3 linked regions of the Homo sapiens genome follow. The protein of the gene in region 2 purifies or fractionates together with the protein of the main gene of each other region. This does not show direct contact. Each region holds a gene or a part of one and is shown on either strand. Other genes may lie near its edges. The genes, in order: SEMA7A, CLEC4A and PCDHB13.

Region 1 (3,650 bases), on a different chromosome or scaffold from region 2:
AGTTTTGGTATTTTCATACAGATGCAGTCGGAAGTAGCTATACATGAAATAAGCCTAACATAAAAATAGAGCTTTTTCCGTCCTTCCGTCCGGAAAGCAAACATCCTTCAATAAACATGCAAGGCGGCTGTCCTGTGGGACCCAGGACCAGAGAGGGAGCTGCAGAGGACAGGGCTGGACAGAGGGTAGCCCTGGGTCTTCAGGAACACCAGCCACCCAGCCATGAGAGAGGGAGGGGAAGGAGGCAATGTGGGTACCAAGAGTCCAGAAGGACTCAGGCCTCAGCCCCAGGGTCGAGATGGAGTCCCAGCTCTCCTATCCAAACCCACTCCCCGACCCATGGGCTCTTGGGCTGGGAGCATCGCTGCATTTAGTCAAGTTTGAGGAGTCTGAAAAATATTTTCCAGAAGATAAAGTCTTGGGTCATCGATGCCCCAGCTTCACAGTCGGTGCCCTCATTCTCAGCCCCTCACCATCCGTGCGCCACCTGGGGCCCAGCAGCCGCCTGCGGCTGGACGTCTCCAGGCCTGGCATCCTCCACTGGGTTATTCTGTCCCCTGGAAGAAGTGGCAGGCAAGGAGCTCCCGGGCCAGCCGGCTCTGAGTGTGAGACGTTCTAGTGCCCTGGGCTGCAGAAGCCTGAGGCATGCCCAGCCTCGGGAGGCCCTAGTGGACCAGCAAGCCAAGAGTGAGTGTGGGCAGCACCCCCAGCCAGAGGGAGGCGGCCAGGGCACAGGCATGACCCAGCAGGTGCTCGGCCATGATGCCGTCCTCGGGCAGCAGCTGCCAGTGCTGAGCCTCGCGGAAGTAGGAGCCCTCCTGGGCCTCGCAGAAGTAGTGGCCGTACTGCTGCGCCGTGAGGTTCTCGATGAACAGGATGCAGTTGGGGCTCTGGTGACCAGGTTCGCAGCTCTGCTCCACGTTCTCCTTGTGGCGCCATGAGTAGGTGGCGTGGCGGGATTCCATGGGGCAGCTCAGGTAGTAGCGAGAGTTTGGGGCCAGGGAAACCTTCTGCAGTGGGGCCTTGTCTGGGGAGGCAGTGGGGAAGCAGCCGTGAGGAGGGACAAAGAGCTCCCAGGGGAGGATGTGTCCTCCCCACGGACTGGGATCCCAGGACAAGGCTTCTGAATGAACGTGGGGAACCCAGCCCTCAGCGTCCTCCTTTTTTCTCCCGTCTCGCTCATCCCACCAAGAGGGCTCCCTCTGCAGGACTGTATCCTGCCCCATGTACCTGGGGCCCACAGGACAAGGCCATGTCTCCCTCAGACCAGGACAATCAGGGCAGGGCAGTACCCCACTCATTGGGCCACAGCCGCCAGCAGGGCCAGATCAGGTACCTGGTTTGGGGTTGGGACACTCCTTGTGTGGCTCGGCTGGATTAATGGATTGCAGCACTGACCTGGAGTGGGAAGGACGAAAGAGGATCAGCAGATACAAGGCTGCAGACCTGACCCTCCTATCCTTACCCCAGTGCAGTTCCAGCAGAGAGGAGGGTCCCACAAGAAAGGCCCAGTACCGCCACCTCCTCCAGCCCGACAACACCTCCCCCTCTCCCATGCCCACCTTCTCCCAGGGACGAGGGATCCCGGCCAACGTACCGTTCGGAGCTGTAGATGGAGATGCAGCGGCCTTGGTCCCAGCCGCAGTAGGGGTCTCGGGACATGAGGCAACCGTGGCAGCCCCCGCCATAGACCTCACACAGGTCCAGGGGCACCTGGCTCACCTCCCACTGGGAGCTCACATACAGCTTCCTCTGGAAGGACAGCAGGATTGGGTCAGGCCCGGGCCCCACCCCACACTCAGTCCTAAATGTCCAGGCCCTAAGGCCTAGAAGCTCTTAAAAGAACACACAAATCACATGCAAAGGAGCCCTGTCCTCAGCTGCAGTCACTGCATAGCCCATGGGACGCAGTGGGGGAAGGCTCACCCGCTCAGCATCCAGCGACATGGTCTGGATGGCAGCCGCGCGGCGGAAGGGCTGGATCTCCATGATGTTGAAGGCGAAGCTGTGCTCCTGCTCCCCCGGTTCCACCACCTTGTGGATAGTGCCCCTGTCTGTGTATGGTGGACAGAGGGTCAGTGGGCGGGAGTCCCACTGAGGGGCCAGGCAGCTTTCCTCTAGGCCGGGGAGGGGTGGGAAGTCACAACTCAGGCAAGGGTCACAGGACTGGTGTGGGCAGGGCGAGGAGAGCGTGACTGGGGAAGAATGTGGGAGCCTAAGGGCAGCCTGGAACCTTCCAAGGCTGATCCAGAGAGGCCATCCCAGGAGGCCCAGGGGTCCCTGGATACGGCCTCCAACATTCCCAAGGCTGCACGGGAAGAACAGAAGCAGGAGCCCCACACCAGCAAGGTCAGTGCGGCTGCTGTCCATGCATCACCTCGTTTAACCCTCCACAGCCCTGCGAGGTGGCTGTCATCTTCCCCACTCCACAGATAAGGAAATCAGGCTCAGAAAGGCTAAGCCACTTGCTCAAGGTCACACAGCTGGTGAGCAGCAGAGACCGAGTTGGAACCCAAATCTGTCAGAGCCCAACCACTCAGCTGCTTCTACAACTCCCCTGCCTCCTGGACTCTTAGGGAATATATTTACTTTAAATACATTTTTTTTTTATTTTGGAGTAATTTTAGATTCCCAGAAAAGTTGCAAAGATAGTACAGAGAGCTCCAATCTACCCTTCTCCAGTTCCCCCTAATGTTACCATCTTACATAACCACGGTATATTTGTCACAACTAGGCAACTGACATTGGTGCATTACTATTAACAAAACTACAGACTTTATTTGGATTTCACTAGTTTTTCCACAAATGTCCTTCTTCTGTTCTAGGATCCAATTCAGGACTCCACGTTGCATTTGATCTTAGGGGATATCTTAATTTTATAAAATCTTAGATCTAAAAAGGATCTTGGATTCTAAATCAAGAGTTCCCAAGGTCTTATAACCGAGCTGCCTGCCTCCTAGACCAATGCTCTCTCCGTTCACAATTAGGGACCAATGGGCACCCTGACCCCTGGTCCTCCCAATCCTACCTCACCTGCTCTCCCAGTTTCTAGAATAGCCTACCTCCCTCTCTCCCTCCCTCCCAATTTCCCAGGGCATCACCTGCCCCAAAAAAGCAGTCAGATGATTGCCTGCCTAGGATGTTTCCTCTACACATCCGTGATCCTCATCTGTGGACTCTGAGATGTGGCCAGATGCTCCTTGGGCCTGATAAGGCCCCACCCCAGCCACTGCCTTCACAGACATACTGCCCTATACCTCCTTCCAAACCAGCCCCAGTAACAGCATACCCTTGGCAAAATTCTCAGGAAAAGAGCCAATACTTCTCCCAGTTGTGAGAGCCTCCCATTCTCTGCAGAGGACTTAGAAAGCTCTATTTTTCAGTCTAGCCCAAATACGAATGATGCAGGCTCCAAAATGGTGCCTCCTCCACTGCCCTTAGAACGAAGACACCTTCTCTAATCACTCAAGTGTGCTCACCTCCCAAGTCTGCAGGAAGGGAATCCATGGCCCAAGTCCAGCCTTCCTTGTCCTAGCTCCTGCTCCCAGTTCCGCACTGTGTGACCTCTCCTCTTCTGCTCCCCAGTGCCCTGCCATCCCTGGCTGACCACAACAGCTGTGCCAGCCACTACTGGAGCCAAGCAAGGATGG
Region 2 (3,750 bases):
GAATTATGTCTCCCCAGAGAAAATTTCATTTCAGATTTCTGGATAAGCTCATTTTCAAAAGTCAGTTTTTAAAGGATACCCTCTGTTCATGGACAGCAGATATTGCTTATTGGTTCAGTTGGCATACTTACTGACAAAAGCAATAAAGAATGAGATTGCCAATAGCAGGAAAAATATCAACAGTGAGGCACAAAGCAGCTTGGGGAATCCGGTATTACTTTTGTGAGGGGCAGTCCTCTCCTTGGAAGCTGAAGAAGAAGCCAAATTAGTTTTATCAGTAATAAGTTTGGTCTTTACTTCCTCTTCTTCCTCCTCCTCTTTCTCTCTCTTTTCTTGGATGACACACAGTTACTAACGGTATGACATTTGAAATCACATGAGAATAGGAATAGAAAGGATATAATAATATTCACTGTAGAAACTTTAAAAAATACATAAAAGTACGAATTCCTACAATTGAGGATAACTGTTATGCCATATAACTTATAATATACCATAATATTTTGGTATATATCTTTCTAGCAATTTTTTGAATGTATATATACACATATGCAAATTTTCCCACGATTGACATACCATAAATACTGATTTCTGACCTATTATTTTCCTTTACACTATATCATGAACATTTTTCATACCATTATATTTTCTTCTTTAACACTCCTTATTATGGTTGCATAGTATTTCATCATATATTTAAATAATGGTTTCCAACTTTAAATAATGCTATAGCAAATAAATCTTTATAATCATTCCTCATCACATGTTTAGAATAAAGTCAGTCTTTTTAGTTACCATCTCATGGTTAGGAATCACTTTCTTCGAGTTATGATATTTTGTCAAATGATGGGGGAAAAAAATTCAGTATTATATAATATGATTACATTTTTAGTAAAATACATATGCACATTATATGTATTTGTATGTGGAAGGATATTCACTAAATTGCAAATTATGATTTTCTCTAGATGATAAGAGTAATTATAATTCAAATATCTGTGTACCTCTGGTTAATTTTTTCTACAATGAACATTAATACTTGTGTAATAAAGAAATTATATAAAGTTTTTAAGGAGAAAAAATTTCCCTAAGTGCTCTCCACACCTTCACAGAGGTATTTTAGAAAGCGTAACTATAGTCCTGACCCCTTCCCCCATAGTTTCTTGTACTCTATATACATTCTTTTCTCTCTTTTGCTCTATACTTGAGATATCACACATGACACCCAAATCACCTTGCATCTACTCCCAAACGTAACAGAGTCTGTCTCAGAGATGCAACACGCAATAGGTTCTCTGATTTCAGAAAAAGTTTCCTGGAGATTTAAGAGACTTTCTTTGTAGACTTTCTAGTCTTTCATTTGCAAAGGCCTTTTGTTACATTTCCATCCATTACCAACAAATATACCCTCACCACTGTCCACCCAAACTCTTTCCCTCTAACTGATCAAAAAACAAATCTCACAAATTCATCAGGACCCCCTGCATCTGGATTGATGGTTTCAGAAGCTGTACTCAATCTCTTAACCCCAGCCCCACTCAGCCTCAGAAAACACAGGGGCATCAGAGCACTCGCCTTAGCTCAGAACTGGAGTGGATTTCTCTCACCTCTGTTTCAGTAAGCAGAGTGGAGGCTGAAGAGAGTGGCACAAAATCTTTTCTTCTCCACAATACAAATGTACACCCCGTAATGCGTATCTGCAGGCCACTCAATCTTCTGGGACTCTTGTGTTTCCCAGACATACTCAATCAGACAACCAGCAACTGAAAACACCTATGCCTTATTCATAAACCCTCTCCTCATCCTTCACCTCGTCATTCACTCTGACCCCTAGAAAATGATCTTTACCTGCAGAAGAGGCTGTGTTGATGCCTGAGGACTTGAATTCATTTTTGAACCTCACTTCAGCATAAGTGATTTCCGAAGTCATAATGGGAAGAGAGCTTCTGCTTTCTTCAGAAAATCTGTTTCAGATCTTTCTTAAAACATCTTATAAACAGGAACCAAACATGGTGGTAAATTACCTCCTTCCTTTCACTCAACTAGTGGAGAGCAGAGGCACCAGATAGGCACATATCCTCAAGAGGGGTCTCATGAGAACTAAGAACCACAATAAAAACTAAAAACCGCAGTTCACAGAAGCCCTTTCCTCAGGACCAGTATAGTGAGAATCACAGCCTTGAAACAAATGCAAGCAAATGCAATAAAAGTGGGAACTCAAAGGGTTGCGGAAAGAGGAAGAAAAATAAAAGAAGAACCAAGCACTTAGAGTCTTTCTGGAGAACTGCGTTTTTCACCAGTAAAAAATACAATTTCTGTGCTTCCACACACAAATGTAATTACTTTTGACCAAACATCCTGAACATAGACTTATGTTGCATTCATCTCATCAATTTTGACTGATCAGGCAACTTGTTAGTACCACATTCTAAGAGTATCATTGACACAAAACTCACATATCAGCCTCCCCACCTTCACGAATTAGTTTCCTGTAGCATGGTGGGGATGGCAAAGTTTAAACCCCATGTCTTCTGAAGCTGTTCCTCCATGCTCTCTGTGTTTCCTTGTTGGTAACTAACTCTATCAAAAGTCTGCATTCATCTTGCTAGAATCTCCAGAAAGCAGCTCCCTTTACTGGATGTTGGAGGAGAGGGAAGGCCAGCCTTTATTCCATGCTTCCCTAACCTTTTAATCGCCACATCACCTCCAATATATATGACTATTTTTTAACAGTTAGGAGAATTATATAGAATCACAGTATAGAAGGGGATAAACTTAAACAAAGTACTAAATATGACTTTTTCCAAAGGCCTAGAAGAAAACACTCCAAATATTAAATCCTTCATGTGGAATCTCTCCATAGACATGCTCCCAGCTCACACCTGGATTCTCTGCCCTCAACTCTCCGCAAATGATCCTCCTTTTAATCTCCCCCAGCTGATTCCTTCTCCTGCATAACACACATGCATACATGCATGCACACACACACAAACACACACGTCTATATTTCTATATTATTTCTATATCTAAATATATTGAACACCATGAGTTCACACTAATTCCTCTAATTCCAATCTAACACCACAAGTTTCATTCTAGTTTTCTCCCTTCCCACATTCCTAACTCCTTTCTGTGACACTAAGAAACCTGCTTTCATTGTCTTTCACTTATTCCTTATTTGATCAATCTCCTGGATGTCGTCAATCTCCCACCTGCTAAGATGTCCCTCTCTTCCTAGTTGGGCTCTGACTCCCCAGTCCAAGCCACCATCCCCTGCGCGGATGCCCTCCCTCCTCACTCTGAGAGTGCCGGCAAAGGGCCAGCCCACTCCCCACCCCCATGAACATCCCCCAACAAACATCCCCCTCACCCTGCCAAGGCTCTGACTCCCTGTGCTAGGCCATTCCTCTGCAGGAAAGCCCTCCTCACTCTGCTTGCACTCTGATTCCTGATGCTGGTCCCCTAGTCACCACTTAGACCCCCTTAGGTTCTAATGCTCCACACAAGGTCACCCTATGGGTGGAAGCCCTCCTCACCCTGGAGGGGTCTGATTTCCTCACCGGGCTATCCTACCACATGGACCACCTCCTTATCCTGCTAAGTTTCTGAAACCCACACCAAGTCCTCCCTCTGCATAGAAGCTTTCTTCATCCTGCTTGGGCTCTGACACTCCATGCAGGTCCTCCATCCCCCAGCAATAATGTCCATCTTACCCTACTTAGGATCTGAGTTCCCTCACTGGGCTACCCC
Region 3 (3,750 bases), on a different chromosome or scaffold from region 2:
ATATCAAAGAGAAATATAGATGATCATTAAATTTTTAGAAATTTTGGGGAGTTAAGGAGAAGCATTGTTTGTTAAAAATATATAACCGATTCTTATATTTAAAATAGGTAATTTTTGCATAGTTGTGTTCTAAATATATTATAAACTAGTGCCAGTAACTCTAATAAAGCTAGTATTACTGCATATCACTGGTGGGATAGAATCTAAGGACAAAAACTCACAGTAGTAAAATCTAAAATTGCTTTCATGGTCTCAGGGTAAAATTATCCAATTTCTCTGACAAATAAATGGCTCAAAAAATAAGAGGAGTGAAGTTTACACAAGGAAAAATCTTAAGAGGTCTACCACTCAAATACAATGTGTGGATCTTTTTTGGATCTTGATTGAAACAACAGCAATGACTTTGAAAAACTTGGAAGAATTTGAATATAGATGGGTATTAAATAATGTTAACTTGATTTTTAGGTATGATAATGGCATTGTACTTAAGCATATTTTTAGAGTCATTTAAAGTCATGATGCTTTTAAAGAAATGTATAATGACGTATTTGTGGGAGAAAATTCAGTTTGTCTGGGATGTGAAAATGTTGAAGGGATAGAGTCAAGAATTATGGCAAAACATTGATAATAGTTGAAGCTAGTACTGAGTCCTTGGAGGATCATTATACTCCTCTCTTTTATGAGATTTGAAAAATTTCAAAATAATGTCTTTTAATTGATGCTGTTAGAAGTGGAGGTAATAAAAAAGGACATCCTTCCCAGAAACAAAATCACCACTGCTGTTACAGATATTGTCTCTATTTAGACAAACTCTCCAGCCTTTCCTTGTTCATTTCCTTTCATTATTGGACATAACCTCTCTACCTGAGATAGTCATGCTCCTGTATTCTTCTACCATTTGAATTTCGAGGTGTTTATCTAGTTATAGTAATGGATTTATGCTAGACTTATGATGGATTTATGCCATCAAGACTCAGTTACTTGATGGCATCAAATTGCTTTATACTTGGTATATACCTTATTTTTAAGGTTAATATCTATTTGCATTAGATTCCTCATGTTTAAGGTGGGGAATTCACAACAGCCCTATGTGGTAGGTACTGTTCTTATCCTCACTTTACAGAGGAGCAAACTAAAGCAGAGAGATTAAATAATTTGTTCGAGGTTCACAGCTACTAATTATTCCTATGGTTCATGGAAATAAAACTATAAAGATCTAAATGTTGTCCATGATAACTACAATTATATTTGAAATTCTTTTTGCCAAGCTAGACTATTACCTAAATATTTCCTTTCTGCCCAAAACTCAGTTATCATTGTTGAAAGACTAATGTGATTTCTCCTTTGGGCAGTTGTCTGCTCACTAAAGTCCGGCGATATTAACGGTGGTGTTGTAACCTTACATAGTCTCGGGGTGCATACAGGCAGAGTTGGGAATATTACATCCATTATCATTCCACAAAATGTAAGATCCTGTGAGGACGCGTGGTGGCGCTGCAGGATAAGAAGGCACAAACCAGAACCGCAGCTGCAGCTCCATTAACCGGCAAAAAGCAGCAGAACCTGGAAGTCCACGGGGAGCTTGGATGCCAAAGGGAGGACGGCTGGGTCCTCTGGAGAGGACTACTCACTGGCATATTTCTGAGGTATCTGTAGAATAACCACAGCCTCAGATACTGGGGACTTTACAGTCCCACAGAACCGTCCTCCCAGGAAGCTGAATCCAGCAAGAACAATGGAGGCCAGCGGGAAGCTCATTTGCAGACAAAGGCAAGTCCTTTTTTCCTTTCTCCTTTTGGGCTTATCTCTGGCGGGCGCGGCGGAACCTAGAAGCTATTCTGTGGTGGAGGAAACTGAGGGCAGCTCCTTTGTCACCAATTTAGCAAAGGACCTGGGTCTGGAGCAGAGGGAATTCTCCAGGCGGGGGGTTAGGGTTGTTTCCAGAGGGAACAAACTACATTTGCAGCTCAATCAGGAGACCGCGGATTTGTTGCTAAATGAGAAATTGGACCGTGAGGATCTGTGCGGTCACACAGAGCCCTGTGTGCTACGTTTCCAAGTGTTGCTAGAGAGTCCCTTCGAGTTTTTTCAAGCTGAGCTGCAAGTAATAGACATAAACGACCACTCTCCAGTATTTCTGGACAAACAAATGTTGGTGAAAGTATCAGAGAGCAGTCCTCCTGGGACTACGTTTCCTCTGAAGAATGCCGAAGACTTAGATGTAGGCCAAAACAATATTGAGAACTATATAATCAGCCCCAACTCCTATTTTCGGGTCCTCACCCGCAAACGCAGTGATGGCAGGAAATACCCAGAGCTGGTGCTGGACAAAGCGCTGGACCGAGAGGAAGAAGCTGAGCTCAGGTTAACACTCACAGCACTGGATGGTGGCTCTCCGCCCAGATCTGGCACTGCTCAGGTCTACATCGAAGTCCTGGATGTCAACGATAATGCCCCTGAATTTGAGCAGCCTTTCTATAGAGTGCAGATCTCTGAGGACAGTCCGGTAGGCTTCCTGGTTGTGAAGGTCTCTGCCACGGATGTAGACACAGGAGTCAACGGAGAGATTTCCTATTCACTTTTCCAAGCTTCAGAAGAGATTGGCAAAACCTTTAAGATCAATCCCTTGACAGGAGAAATTGAACTAAAAAAACAACTCGATTTCGAAAAACTTCAGTCCTATGAAGTCAATATTGAGGCAAGAGATGCTGGAACCTTTTCTGGAAAATGCACCGTTCTGATTCAAGTGATAGATGTGAACGACCATGCCCCAGAAGTTACCATGTCTGCATTTACCAGCCCAATACCTGAGAACGCGCCTGAAACTGTGGTTGCACTTTTCAGTGTTTCAGATCTTGATTCAGGAGAAAATGGGAAAATTAGTTGCTCCATTCAGGAGGATCTACCCTTCCTCCTGAAATCCGCGGAAAACTTTTACACCCTACTAACGGAGAGACCACTAGACAGAGAAAGCAGAGCGGAATACAACATCACTATCACTGTCACTGACTTGGGGACCCCTATGCTGATAACACAGCTCAATATGACCGTGCTGATCGCCGATGTCAATGACAACGCTCCCGCCTTCACCCAAACCTCCTACACCCTGTTCGTCCGCGAGAACAACAGCCCCGCCCTGCACATCCGCAGCGTCAGCGCTACAGACAGAGACTCAGGCACCAACGCCCAGGTCACCTACTCGCTGCTGCCGCCCCAGGACCCGCACCTGCCCCTCACATCCCTGGTCTCCATCAACGCGGACAACGGCCACCTGTTCGCCCTCAGGTCTCTGGACTACGAGGCCCTGCAGGGGTTCCAGTTCCGCGTGGGCGCTTCAGACCACGGCTCCCCGGCGCTGAGCAGCGAGGCGCTGGTGCGCGTGGTGGTGCTGGACGCCAACGACAACTCGCCCTTCGTGCTGTACCCGCTGCAGAACGGCTCCGCGCCCTGCACCGAGCTGGTGCCCCGGGCGGCCGAGCCGGGCTACCTGGTGACCAAGGTGGTGGCGGTGGACGGCGACTCGGGCCAGAACGCCTGGCTGTCGTACCAGCTGCTCAAGGCCACGGAGCTCGGTCTGTTCGGCGTGTGGGCGCACAATGGCGAGGTGCGCACCGCCAGGCTGCTGAGCGAGCGCGACGCGGCCAAGCACAGGCTGGTGGTGCTGGTCAAGGACAATGGCGAGCCTCCGCGCTCGGCCACCGCCACGCTGCACGTGCTCCTGGTGGACGGCTTCTCCCAGCCCTACCTGCC

The links.
Region 1: the proteins of CLEC4A (region 2) and SEMA7A purify together in Homo sapiens (co-immunoprecipitation; 2 studies listed by BioGRID and IntAct, with this or other methods). This does not show direct contact.
Region 3: the proteins of CLEC4A (region 2) and PCDHB13 purify together in Homo sapiens (co-immunoprecipitation; 2 studies listed by BioGRID and IntAct, with this or other methods). This does not show direct contact.

Annotation. Positions count from the first base shown.
Region 1 is NC_000015.10:74,409,959-74,413,608, forward strand, and holds part of SEMA7A (semaphorin-7A isoform 1 preproprotein), read right to left. Parts: intron 2,055-3,650; coding exon 1,927-2,054; intron 1,753-1,926; coding exon 1,598-1,752; intron 1,475-1,597; exon of another isoform or gene 1,399-1,474; coding exon 1,337-1,398; intron 1,028-1,336; coding exon 666-1,027; 3' UTR 1-665. UniProt on the Homo sapiens protein: Plays an important role in integrin-mediated signaling and functions both in regulating cell migration and immune responses.
Region 2 is NC_000012.12:8,122,059-8,125,808, reverse strand, and holds the start of CLEC4A (C-type lectin domain family 4 member A), read right to left. Parts: upstream 2,193-3,750; 5' UTR 1,931-2,192; coding exon 1,849-1,930; intron 249-1,848; coding exon 132-248; intron 1-131. UniProt on the Homo sapiens protein: C-type lectin receptor that binds carbohydrates mannose and fucose but also weakly interacts with N-acetylglucosamine (GlcNAc) in a Ca(2+)-dependent manner. Involved in regulating immune reactivity.
Region 3 is NC_000005.10:141,212,389-141,216,138, forward strand, and holds the start of PCDHB13 (protocadherin beta-13 precursor), read left to right. Parts: upstream 1-1,530; 5' UTR 1,531-1,735; coding exon 1,736-3,750. UniProt on the Homo sapiens protein: Potential calcium-dependent cell-adhesion protein. May be involved in the establishment and maintenance of specific neuronal connections in the brain.